Linked DNA regions of Homo sapiens. The protein of the gene in region 1 purifies or fractionates together with the protein of each later gene. This does not show direct contact. Each region holds a gene or a part of one and is shown on either strand. Other genes may lie near its edges. The genes, in order: SLC30A7, METTL9 and HACL2.

Region 1 (3,747 bases):
GAAAAGAGGTAATGTAGGTTTCTCCATAAACCACTTAAGCGATTTCTGATTTGTAGCAATACAGTATAAAATATAGGACTTATTTTCAAAGGCAGAATACAAAAAAGTTCAAAATGCAGCTGACCTTGATGAGTTAGGATTATGCTGGAAATCAGTTGCTGAAATTTAATTATTTCTATTACTTCTCCCGCCTTCTCCCAAGTTAAATCATATTGAATAAGGGCGTTTTGGAGAAAAATCCAATTACCATAGAATTATTTATCTTTAAACTATCTAGTTTGCACCCAATTAATTTTTCCTCAGCAGTGCAGTAGAGTAAAATTCAAGGTCTACTGCTAATACAAAAACTTCCTTCCAAAAAAAGAGTAAATGCTACTAATTTTAAATATTTCTACACTTAAATTAAAAGAATGAAATATACGCTAACAAAGGCAAATACAAAATACTCTTCCCAGAACTTACTTCTGAAACCTAGCTGTTTTTACACAGCAGTTTTAATTAACATTTTTCAAAATTGTAGAATAAGTACATATTTTCAAAAATAAAACCACCGAATACTCCATACACACACACAAAGTTCTCAGAACGAGAGCAAAACATGCATATATCCTCACTACAAAAAGAAAAATACTAATACTGGAGCATTTTGCTGTGTCTCCTTACCTCGAGTGCAGTAGATTGCAGTAGGGCCAGCCGATTTATTTCCCTGCAGCTTAGTTATCATAAAACGGAAGGGGCGTCTCGTTTGCTCATTTTTGTTTTTTTTTCTAAACCAAGTAGCGTGCATCTATCCTTCTCCATTAGCTGGATTAACAACCTGGAAAAAGTGCCGCCCGCAAAGTGAGCGCCTGGAGCAAGGGACAGTCCCCGAGTGGCCGCCCCTCCCTTTCGGTGACGCTCCACTTCCTGTCGGCCTAAAAGGCATTCCCAGGAAGCTCGGTTTTGTAGTTTCCAGCCCACCTCCGAAAGCCAATCCTTTCCTCCATTTCTTCTCCAAGGTAACAACTTTTAAACATTCACGTGACGGACCACCTTCCCTCAGCCAAACAACTTCCCTGAAAGGCGCCCGAAGGAGCCTTCCCATCCACCGCGGGTGCCCAGGAAAGGCCTGTGGGGCTCTCCTCCCCGCGCTCCACACGCCCTCGCATCCCACCGAGGGGCCAGCTTCTGCCTGCACGTTGCTGAAACTGGCCTGGAGGTTCTGACAAGAATTAGAGCGGCGGCCGTTGCCCCGGGGATGACCTGGAAGCGAAAGAGACCGGCACGAATTCTAGAGTTTCGGGGTTTCCGCGGGTTGAGATTGTACGGGAAACAATGCATTAACCAAACCTAAAAATCAAACAAACACGTCTGGTAGAACCTACCATTAAAAAGCTTCTTTCCTATACTACGTTTAACAGCCTTTATTTTGAAAGACATTGATTGATGCCAGGCATGGTGGCGCACGCCTGAGGTCTCAGCTACTCCGGAGGCTGAGGAGGATCACTTGCGTCCGGGAGTTCCAGGCTGTAGTGAGCCTCATTGTGCTCCAGCCTAGGTGACAGGGCGAGACCTTGTCTCTTAAAAAAATAAAGAAAGAAAAACATTGATCGCCTCCTGCGTGGCAGTCCAGAAGGGTCAAGCGCTGTTTTCGGGGTGGCGTGGAATGGATTCCTAAGATTTGGGCGCCCATAGAGTTAACGCAGCAAAACGATCACTTGCGTTTCCTGCGGACTGGCGGCAATAGAACACGTGGCTGCCTAGACTCTTAATCACTGATATCTACCACACCAGGATTTAATGCCAGTTGGGAGGAAATGGCGAAAGGGCAGGCGCTGGAGCCCATGCATCCGGGAACACTGGTGGTAGGCGGTCGGGTGGGCGTGAGCGGGCTCTCCATCTCCCAGCCCAGTCTGCAGGTCGCCACCTCAGGATTTTCTTCCTGAGTCCGGGTGGCAGGATTCCATCCCAGGTCAGCCCCTCACACCCCCTGGTAGTTGCCACCTCCTGGCGTCCCTCCAACAGCTCCAGCACCTTTCTCATCCCGCCCCCGCCGCAAGCCACGCCCTCCGCCGCGCAGGCCCCGCCCGCGACCGGCCTCCCTCCTTTCCTGTCCCAGGACGCGTTGCGCGGCCCGGGCCGGAAGTAAGCGAATTCCCGGGTGTGTGTCTGTGTCTGTCTGTGTCTCGCAGCGGCGCGCGGCCCCGGACAAGCGCTGGGGATTCCCGTTTGAGGCGTCACTACTGTCACTGCCATCACCCCACGGAGCCACTTCTAGAGGGGAGTAGACCCGGCCCTTCGCCGGGCAGAGAAGATGTTGCCCCTGTCCATCAAAGACGATGAATACAAACCACCCAAGTTCAATTTGTTCGGCAAGATCTCGGGCTGGTTTAGGTGCGGGGTGCTGTGTTTGCGGGGAGGGGGTGTCCGGCAGAAAGGGAGAAGGCCCAGACCTCAGGATGGCCCGAGGTCCAGTGAGGGAGAGTCAAAAACTCCCCGTCAACCCCTAGCTGTGAAGAAAGGAGCATGTGAACTGGGAGGGTCTTGAAGAGGGTACCCAGCCTCGGGGTCCCGGCACCTCCTTAACTCTCCCGGCTCTTTTCCACGTGTATCATTCCCAGGTCTATACTGTCCGACAAGACTTCCCGGAACCTGTTTTTCTTCCTGTGCCTGAACCTCTCTTTCGCTTTTGTGGAACTACTCTACGGCATCTGGAGCAACTGGTAACCAAAGGGGAAAATGGTTTGGGCGGAAGCTGGGTGTGAGGGAGACGAAGCACTGTTTGCTTAATGCCACGTAGCTCCTCACTAGGAGGTTCAGGTCCTACCTTTGTTACCTACCTCTGCTGCTGAGTTGCTTTCTCATACCCACACCAATCTGGTAGGGCTACAGTTCTTGAGTAAGATCTGGGCCTATCCTGTGCAACCTCTCTTGTCACGCTCCCCTCCAGTTCCATCAGACAAGACTGACAAGCCCCTCCTTATTTTAGCAGATGGGCAGAATCTTTCATTTCTAATTGTAGGCCTTAGGTTTACCCACTTTGTTGGAATTGGGAGAAACTTGTTTGCTGCCTCTCTCGGGGGGGAGTGGCATTTGGATTTCACCCTTAAGATTCTGAGAGAGTATATCTGAGATGTTCTACTTAGTTTGTTATTGGGGCTTGGAATGGGAGGTTTTATAAAGTGATATCGGGAGGAATATGTGTCATTCTCTTCTCTCTTTAATGCCGAAACTGTCTCATGATTTTCCTGTAGTCTTAACTGCGATGTAAAAATCCCATATAGTTTCTAGAAACAACATTTCTTGGGTTTTGGTGGCACCTTTGAGGGTTTTTGTTTTTTTTGAAACATCCTTAGGAGGAGGAAAATCTAGTGTGTAACTCTGTGGCAGTGAAGTTACTATTATTCAGGTATTTGCTGTTGAGTAACTTAAGGTCTTATGAAGTTGTTCTGCTAACAAGACTGTCACACTCCTAGGTGTACTAATTCTGTCTTTAGATCCCATACTCCTTCAAAAATCTGATGAAAGCCAATACTCAGAATTGTACATAAAGCTTCAGGATGTTGTTGGGTTCCCTGTACTAAATCTTGGACTCTAGATTAAGAACCTGTTTTCTATTTATTAAATAGACTTAGTCTCTGTTGTTTAAGACCCATTTTCAGAGAAAATCGCTGTCCTTGATCTTCTGTTGAGATCAAACATTGACAGGTAATATCACCAGGTTTTGTGACATGTATACTTTTATATAATGCTTGGGCTTCTTTCAAT
Region 2 (3,747 bases), on another chromosome or scaffold:
TTCTTGAACAAACAAGTGATTTAAAGAGGGAAGCAGGGAGGAGCCATATCTACCAAGGACTTGGTACGTTCCAAGCCTGAGGGCTTCATGAGTTACCTCTTTTGTACTTCCCAGGTACTCTTTGAGACAGGTGGGCAGATAAAGAACAGACTCAGAAGGGGTGAAGAACTTGCCCACGCTTGCAAGGTTAATGAGTGTCAGTATGGAAATGTAAGCCCAGGTTTGTCTGGATCCAAGGCCCCACACTGTTATCTTCTCTGACAGTTTTGGGTAGTATCTGCCAATAGACTGACTGCAGGGTGTAATGGTTAATGGGTTTGGAAAACTGGTCATTAAATGCTGGAATACTGAAACAGAGAGCAACATGTAATATCTGAAGGACAGTTTTGGACAAATGCAAGAAAATACCACTGGCATAGTAAACTTATGCAACTTACTACCTAGAGAGATTTATTAGGCTGAAAATAAAAACAGGCTCATGAAGGATTTTAATTTAGAAAAGCAGATCATTGGGGAGTTTTTCTAGGGAAGTTGACTCATTCTTTGCCTTTTCAGAACAATTTCATAAACATTAAGCTCCAGGACCAGAGAGAGATGGAACAGTAGGATGGATACACCGTCCAGCATTTCTTGGACTAGAGATGAAGCCTCTATCAGTCATTTCCAAACCTATGAGCAGGAGATGCCTGGGGGACAAGGGGACTAGGGAAGGTCCTCAAATTCACATACAAACCTGGCACTGACTACAGACACACACACAGAGATGACAGTATATTTAACTTTGGGGGTACTTTTTAGGTGCTATGGTGATACAAAAACTACATACATCTGTTGAAGTGTTAAAACCAGATTGAGGCCGGGCGTGGTGGCACATGCCTGTAATCCCAGCACTTTGGGAGGCCGAGGTGGGCGGATCACGAGGTCAGGAGATCAAGACCATCCTGACTAACACAGTGAAACCCCGTCTCTACTAAAAAAAATACAAAAAAATTAGCTGGGCATGGCAACATGCACCTGTAGTCCCAGCTACTTGGGAGGCTGAGGCAGGAGAATGGTGTGAACCCGGGAGGCGGAGCTTGCAGCGAGCCAAGATCGTGCCACTGCACTCCAGCCTGGGCGACAGAGCGAGACTCTGTCTCAAAAAAAAAAAAAAAAAAAAAAACAAAACAGACTGAGAATAACTTTCTGTTAATGAGAAAATATATCATGAGCAGATGCCAAGGGCACAGACATCATATCATGGTGGGGAGATTTTTCATAATTTTCAGTGGTGCAGATGACGCTCTTCCCATGTCTGGGGAATTGCCTGCCCAGAGTCTGGGAGAGACACAAGGCCTGGGAGCCGCTTTCCTGGCCTGCCGTGCAGCTGAGGCACTGGCACGCAGCCTAAGCCAGGCACACTTGCCCATGCCCTGGAATGGAGAGCCAGTGACCCAGAGTAGTGGGGATGTGAGCTTCTCCTTCTCTGGGGGTGGAGCAATGGCAGTGAGACCAAGGGGCTGGGGCAGTGGTTGAGCGATGCTGACAACAGGGCTGATGGCACCTAGTGTTTGGCAGTGGCAGTAGCATCCTCTTCAGACCTGTTTATGGTGTGATTTGAGGCATTCTTCCTGGCTGTGGACCCCACACAAGATTCACTAGCCCTCCCAGTGACTCTAGGATCTACCTTCAAATGTTTGCATAAATTTCCTTTTAAGTCAGCCTGAGTCTGTTTCTGCTGCTTTACAAAGAAGACCCTTACTGAATCACCACTAAGTGCTGGGGGAGAGGACACAGAGGACAGAGGGCCCACATATTTGTTTCTCAACACATTAAAAGGGGGTCTTTGGGCCAGGCATGGTGGCTCACACCTGTAATCCTAACACTTTGGGAGGCCAAGGCAGGGGGATCGCTTGAGGGCAGGACTAGCCTAGACAACACAGAATCTACAAAAAAAAAAAAAAATTAGCCAGGGGTGGTGGTGCATGCCTGTAGTCCCAGCTACTCAGGAAGCTGAGGCTGCAATGACCTGCAATCTTGCCACTGCATTCCAGCCTGGGTGATAGAGACCCTGTCAAAAAAGGGGGGAAGGCAGGTGTCTTTGGATTCAAAACTGGAGTACAAAAAGTTAATAACAGACAATTTATTTATTCGCTGCATTAGAATGTGTTGTTTACTAACTTTTCTCATCTCTACACAAAGCCACTTCTCCTTCTGCTGTTCTTTGTTCCCAGCAGTTACTGGCCCAGAGTGGCACCCAGAGCAGGTACCCTAGACAGTGACTGAACTGTTCTGAAAAATCCAAGTACGAATTATTTGTCAAACAATACTCCTTCCTGGAAATATGTGCTAGGTGTAAATCAAAATCTCACCCAGAAACATCTAACACCTATGACAACTGTAAAATCCATGGAAAAAAAAAAGATATGCACATTTCTAAATGTGCTCCAGGCCAAAATCTCAATGTTAAATGGTGAAGCCATCCTTGCACAATTTCAAAAAGTTCCTGATTATGGTTCCTTCATAAGAGGTTCCTCTCTTCAGCTCTTCTTCCCTTCTGAAAAAAGAAAGCCAACTTTCCTTTCAAATACACACCCCAACCCGCCCCGGCATACACAGAAATGGGGACTGCGAGCAGAAGCAACATCGCTCGCCATCTGCAAACCAATCTCATTCTATTTTGTGTCGGTAAGGTTCTTTTTCTTCTCCTCCTTCATTTTATTTAAATCAACTGCTATTTTTCACCTAATGCATTTATATTTTAAGCTCCTTCAGATTAATTTTTAAATGTATAACATTATGAAAACTGCCTAAGAGGATAAGTTTCCTTTTTCCCCTGAGAAATAGACAATAAAAAAATAGCTGAGAAAAAGTTTCATATTAACCTTGAAAAGTCTCTTTGCTATTATGCTAATTGGAGACAATCTGACCAAAGGGTTGAAAATATTCTTAAAATCGTAGGTATAAGTTATCAATAATTTAATTATCATACAAACTTGATCTGCACATAGAAAGCAATAAATGATTATTTGCTGAATATTTTCAAAGAACAATTTCTATAAAAGTACTTTTCATTTAAGAAAAAAAAAACTGCCATGACTCCAATAGCCATCCCATAGTATATCTATTTTTAAAATTCTGTCTACTTCTGTTTTTTTATCTATGAAAGAGAAAGGATTTCCAATACATCTAGTAATCTCAGATTTGCCCACACAATTTGGATTATAGGGCAGGGAAGGGGGGAAAGTTCTTAATTTTTTCTCATCTGTGAAGAAATATATCAAAATGTTAATGGGAGTTATTTCAGGCAAAAGGACTATGGGTGACTTTTTGCTTCTACTTTTAATAACCTGTTTTTTGCTAATAAGTATATATTACTTTCATAGACTATTTTAATTAGCATTATTTTAAAGAAGAATTCCTGTCTTTTAGAGATATATTCTGAAAGATGCAGATAAAATGGCTGGGATTTGCTCTAAAATAATATGGGAGTGAGGGAGTAGGTGGGAGGAGAAAAGAAACAAGATTGGGTCGAAGCCATGTGATGGCAGGGGGTTGACTGTACTACTTCGCTACTTTGATATGTTAGAAATTTGAAATCTAATATAATAAAGCTTTGGGCTGGGCGTGGTGGTTCATGCCTGTAATCCCAGCACTTTGGGGGCCAAGGTGAGAGGATCACTTGAGCTCAGGAGTTCAAGACCAGCATGAACAACATAATGAGACCCCCATTTCTACACAAGAAAAAAAAATAGCTGGGCGTGATGG
Region 3 (3,747 bases), on another chromosome or scaffold:
ATCAGATCCTCTTGTCATTACATCCCTCTTACAGCTGAGGACATCAAGGCTTGCCCAAGTAAGACTGAAAGTTCAATAGAACCCACGCTCTTAAGTGCCCCACTGTTACACTGCCTGTCTCCAGGATGGCAGGGCAATCAGGGAGAGAGGAGAGGGTTATATAACCCAGGGGGTTTGGCCAGGGGCACAACGCACGCAGAGCAGATGGCAGGGAGCCATCTGCTGTGACTCCTCCCTGCCCTCCAGTATCCTTGCAGAGCCTGGCAGCTGGGCTCCTGATCCCAGCCTCCCTGATGCCCTCCTGATGGACGCTAAACAGGCCCAGGGCTTAGTTGACAGGCTGCCAGCCACCATGTGCCTGGCACGGGAGTGAGCTGCTGGCACAGACTGTGCCGAGGCCTCCCAACTCCAGCTGCCTCACAGCCCTACACATCCAAGGCTTGCTTTAAATCTCCTAAGTCCTGAAGGTCAGTGGCATCACTCCTGGCTAGCAGAGGAAGCAGTAGAGAAGGGTTTGGGGAGGGAGAGGTCAAGCTTGGTCCCTGCTAGGAGAGAAAGGGTTGAGGAAGGGGTCTGGAGAAGGGGTAAATTTCAAACAGAGGTGCAAGGAGTTTAGGGGGACACCTGTGGGGTCAGCTCTCTCCAAACATGTCACCTAGGGCAAACCACCACACAATCTCTCTGAGCCTCAGCTTCCTCTTGCAGAAAATGAAGACAGAAAGAACAGCACCTACTTTCAAGGAAAAGGTAAGGGGTAGGTAAGAAAGTCTACAGTACTGAGCTCAGCAGAGGGCAACTGTTATGAAACTGTCACTGCCACCCCCTCGCTGGAGCCTGCCCTCTGCCCCATTTATCCCATCCAGGTTAGGGAGCACAGAGTGCTGTCCATCTGTTCTGTGAAAAGAGTCACTGGGGAAGGAGGTAGGTGGGGTGCGAGTGCCCCGGCAGCGGCAGCTTCCGTGTTCTCTCTTACCAGTGGCAAAGTCCAGGCCTCCATACACAGCGTGGCAATGGAGACAGGGCCCTGGACAGAACCTCTTACCAGTCCCTCTGGACTAGTCGGGGCTCGCTTTCCCACCCTGCACAATGAGTGAGCTGGAAGCAGCACCACGAGGCCCCTCCCTCTTTGACTGCCCCCAGCCCACCTCCCATTCTGTGCCCCGCACCTTGTGCAGCAGCTGATAGAAGAGCCCCAGGCGGTGAGCGGCGCCCAGCAAGGCGGCCACCAGCGTCCCGCAGGCCAGGAGCAGGAAGGAGGGGAATAAGCTCCCAGCGGGGGCGGCGGCCGCGGGGGTCTCCATGAGGTGGTACCTAAGAGAGAAAGGGCACTTCCCAGACTTGGGCGCGACAGGGAACCTCTCCGGAAGAAATCGCGCCCCTTCTCGCAGCAGGATCCAGGGCCACGACCCTTGCCGCCAGTTTCTGTGCGGCCACGCCCCCAACCCTGCCAGACCACGCCCTTTGTGCGCCTAGGCTCGGGGTGAAGCCATGCCTCTCCGTGACAAGGTCACGCCCCTCGCGGGGCTAGCCCCAGTCCTTTACATCACCACCACTCCCACCCAAACTAGCCACCACAAGTCAAGGTGGCGACGACAGCACCACACAGTTATCTTCCACTTACCTACTTGTCAATGGACAGGCGGAAGCCCCGCCTCTCTTTCCACAACCGGACCCCAAATCTCAGCCCCAGTAGTGAGCCCGCCCCATGTTACGTCACCAAGAGGCACGAGGTCACGCCCCCGGGTTAGCGGGCGCGACCCTCCACGCAACCCACGCCTCTCCCTTAAAGAGCGCACGGGCCCGAGCCTGATCCCCGACCCCGGGCCAGGCTGGGTCGAGGTCACATCGCATCAGGATGTGGTTCTCCCACACCAGCTCGACCCCCGACGCTATTCACCTTCACCTCCAGGATATGGCGCTGCCTCCAGCAGAATTCGGCCCCCTCCGTGTCACGTGACCCGGGAGCGTGGCCGTGCCCGGGTGGCCCACTTGGCTCAGCGGCGCCCCGTAGTCCGGCCCGATGCGCATGCGCACAGTCGGAGCCCCGCTCCGGGGCCACCCGAAAGAGCCTTGCCTCTACTGGCCGCCTCCCTCATAGACCCCGCCTCCCCTTGCCTTTCATTGGCTCGCACTGCAGACCTCACACCCATTTTATGTTTTAAAACCAGGAGGCCACGCCCCTCAGCGGCTTCAGGAGCCCAGACCTTTGGGGGCCCACCTTCCGCAGCTTTCCATTGGCCCCACGGTGGAAGCCCGTAGGTTCAGGCCCTCCGAACACAGCTCGCTTTCCACACCAGCGGGGCCGTACCAGAGCAAGACCATGTCTCACAAAATAATAATAATACTTAAAAAATGGTAAATTTTATGTTATGTATATTTTCCACACTATAAATAAATATTTGTGCATGTATATATATATATGTGTATATTTTTTGTATAATAGGTATAGTAGTAAGCAAAGGAAATTCACACTGAGTCACATTCTACAAAATGCCTAACCAGACCTCTACAAAACTGTCAAGGTCATGAAAAACAAAGACTGAGGCACTGCCACAGACTAGAGGAGGGAAAGGAGCTGTGACAACTAAATTCAATATAGTACCCTGGACTGGATCCAGGAATCAAAAAAAGGACAAATTTGTGGATAAAGTTGGTGAAATCCAAATAAAGTTTGGAGTTGAGTTAGTAGTAATGAACCAGTGTTAATCTTTTTGTTTCAGTAAATGTATTATGGTTATATAAGATGTTAGCATTCAGGGAAGCTGGATAAAGAGTAGACAAAAATTATCTTGCTATCTTTGCAGCTTTTCTGTAAAGCTAAAAAAGAAAAAAAAAGTCTTAATAACAAGGATACAATTTTCCAGAGAGAGAGAAAGATGTTGTAATAGATGTAAATTCTTTCTTGGGAGACAAAGCTTTAACATGCTCCAAGACTAATTATCTGACCAATCTCTCCCCAGATAAAGAAAGATTGTCACTAGGCAAATGTCCAAAAAGCTTCTCAGCCGAAAGCTGGATTATTCAACAGTCCCTGAAACAAATATACACAGAGGACAAGTGATTTTTTTAAAAAGGGAAACAAGCCTGGCATGGTGGTCCATGTGTGTAATCCCAGCACTTTGGGAGGCCAAGACAGGAGGATCGCTTGAGGCCAGGAATTTGAGACCAACCGGGGCCAAAAAGTGAGACCCAGTCTCTCCAAAAAACAAACAAACAAACAAACTTAGCCAGGAGAATCGCTTGAACCCGGGAGGTGGAGGTTGCGGTGAGCTGAGATCACGCCATTGCACTCCAGCCTGGGAAACAGAGCAAGACTCTGTCTAAAAAAAATTTTTTTTAAAAGAAAAAAAATTAGCTGAGTATGGTGGCACGTGCTTGTTATCCCTTTTGCTTGGGAGGTTGAGAAGGGAGGATTGCTTGAACCCAAGAGGTTGTGTCTACAGTGAGCTGTGATCGTGCCACTGCACTCCAGCTGGGGCAACAGAGCAAGACCCTGTCTCTAAAAAAAAGGGGGTGGGTGTGGGGCAGGGGAGGAAACAAATACCATGTATCTAAATTGATCGAAATTTAAAGAGAAGTGCAACAAATTATTGAGTTAGAGGGATACAGTAAGGGCCTCTCTTAGGACAAGCAGAAGGACTCTCTAAGGAGGTGACAGTTGAGCAGAGAGACCAGGAGGAAGTGAGGACATGGGCCCCACAAGGATCTGGAGAAAGAGTAATCCAGGTAGAGAAGATGGCACATGCA

What was found.
Region 2: the proteins of SLC30A7 (region 1) and METTL9 purify together in Homo sapiens (co-immunoprecipitation; 2 studies listed by BioGRID and IntAct, with this or other methods). This does not show direct contact.
Region 3: the proteins of SLC30A7 (region 1) and HACL2 purify together in Homo sapiens (co-immunoprecipitation; 2 studies listed by BioGRID and IntAct, with this or other methods). This does not show direct contact.

Annotation. Positions count from the first base shown.
Region 1 is NC_000001.11:100,893,970-100,897,716, forward strand, and holds the start of SLC30A7 (zinc transporter 7), read left to right. Parts: upstream 1-2,120; 5' UTR 2,121-2,293; coding exon 2,294-2,373; intron 2,374-2,600; coding exon 2,601-2,702; intron 2,703-3,747. UniProt on the Homo sapiens protein: Zinc ion transporter mediating zinc entry from the cytosol into the lumen of organelles along the secretory pathway.
Region 2 is NC_000016.10:21,651,452-21,655,198, reverse strand, and holds part of METTL9 (protein-L-histidine N-pros-methyltransferase isoform 1 precursor), read right to left. Parts: intron 2,668-3,747; coding exon of another isoform or gene 2,601-2,667; exon of another isoform or gene 2,591-2,600; intron 1-2,590. Other genes in the region: IGSF6 (immunoglobulin superfamily member 6 precursor), read left to right, coding at 2,601-2,667. UniProt on the Homo sapiens protein: Protein-histidine N-methyltransferase that specifically catalyzes 1-methylhistidine (pros-methylhistidine) methylation of target proteins.
Region 3 is NC_000019.10:15,123,759-15,127,505, forward strand, and holds the start of HACL2 (2-hydroxyacyl-CoA lyase 2), read right to left. Parts: upstream 2,029-3,747; 5' UTR 1,898-2,028; exon of another isoform or gene 1,622-1,897; intron 1,435-1,621; exon of another isoform or gene 1,312-1,434; 5' UTR 1,302-1,311; coding exon 1,167-1,301; intron 748-1,166; exon of another isoform or gene 706-747; intron 468-705; exon of another isoform or gene 402-467; intron 1-401. UniProt on the Homo sapiens protein: Endoplasmic reticulum 2-OH acyl-CoA lyase involved in the cleavage (C1 removal) reaction in the fatty acid alpha-oxydation in a thiamine pyrophosphate (TPP)-dependent manner. Involved in the phytosphingosine degradation pathway.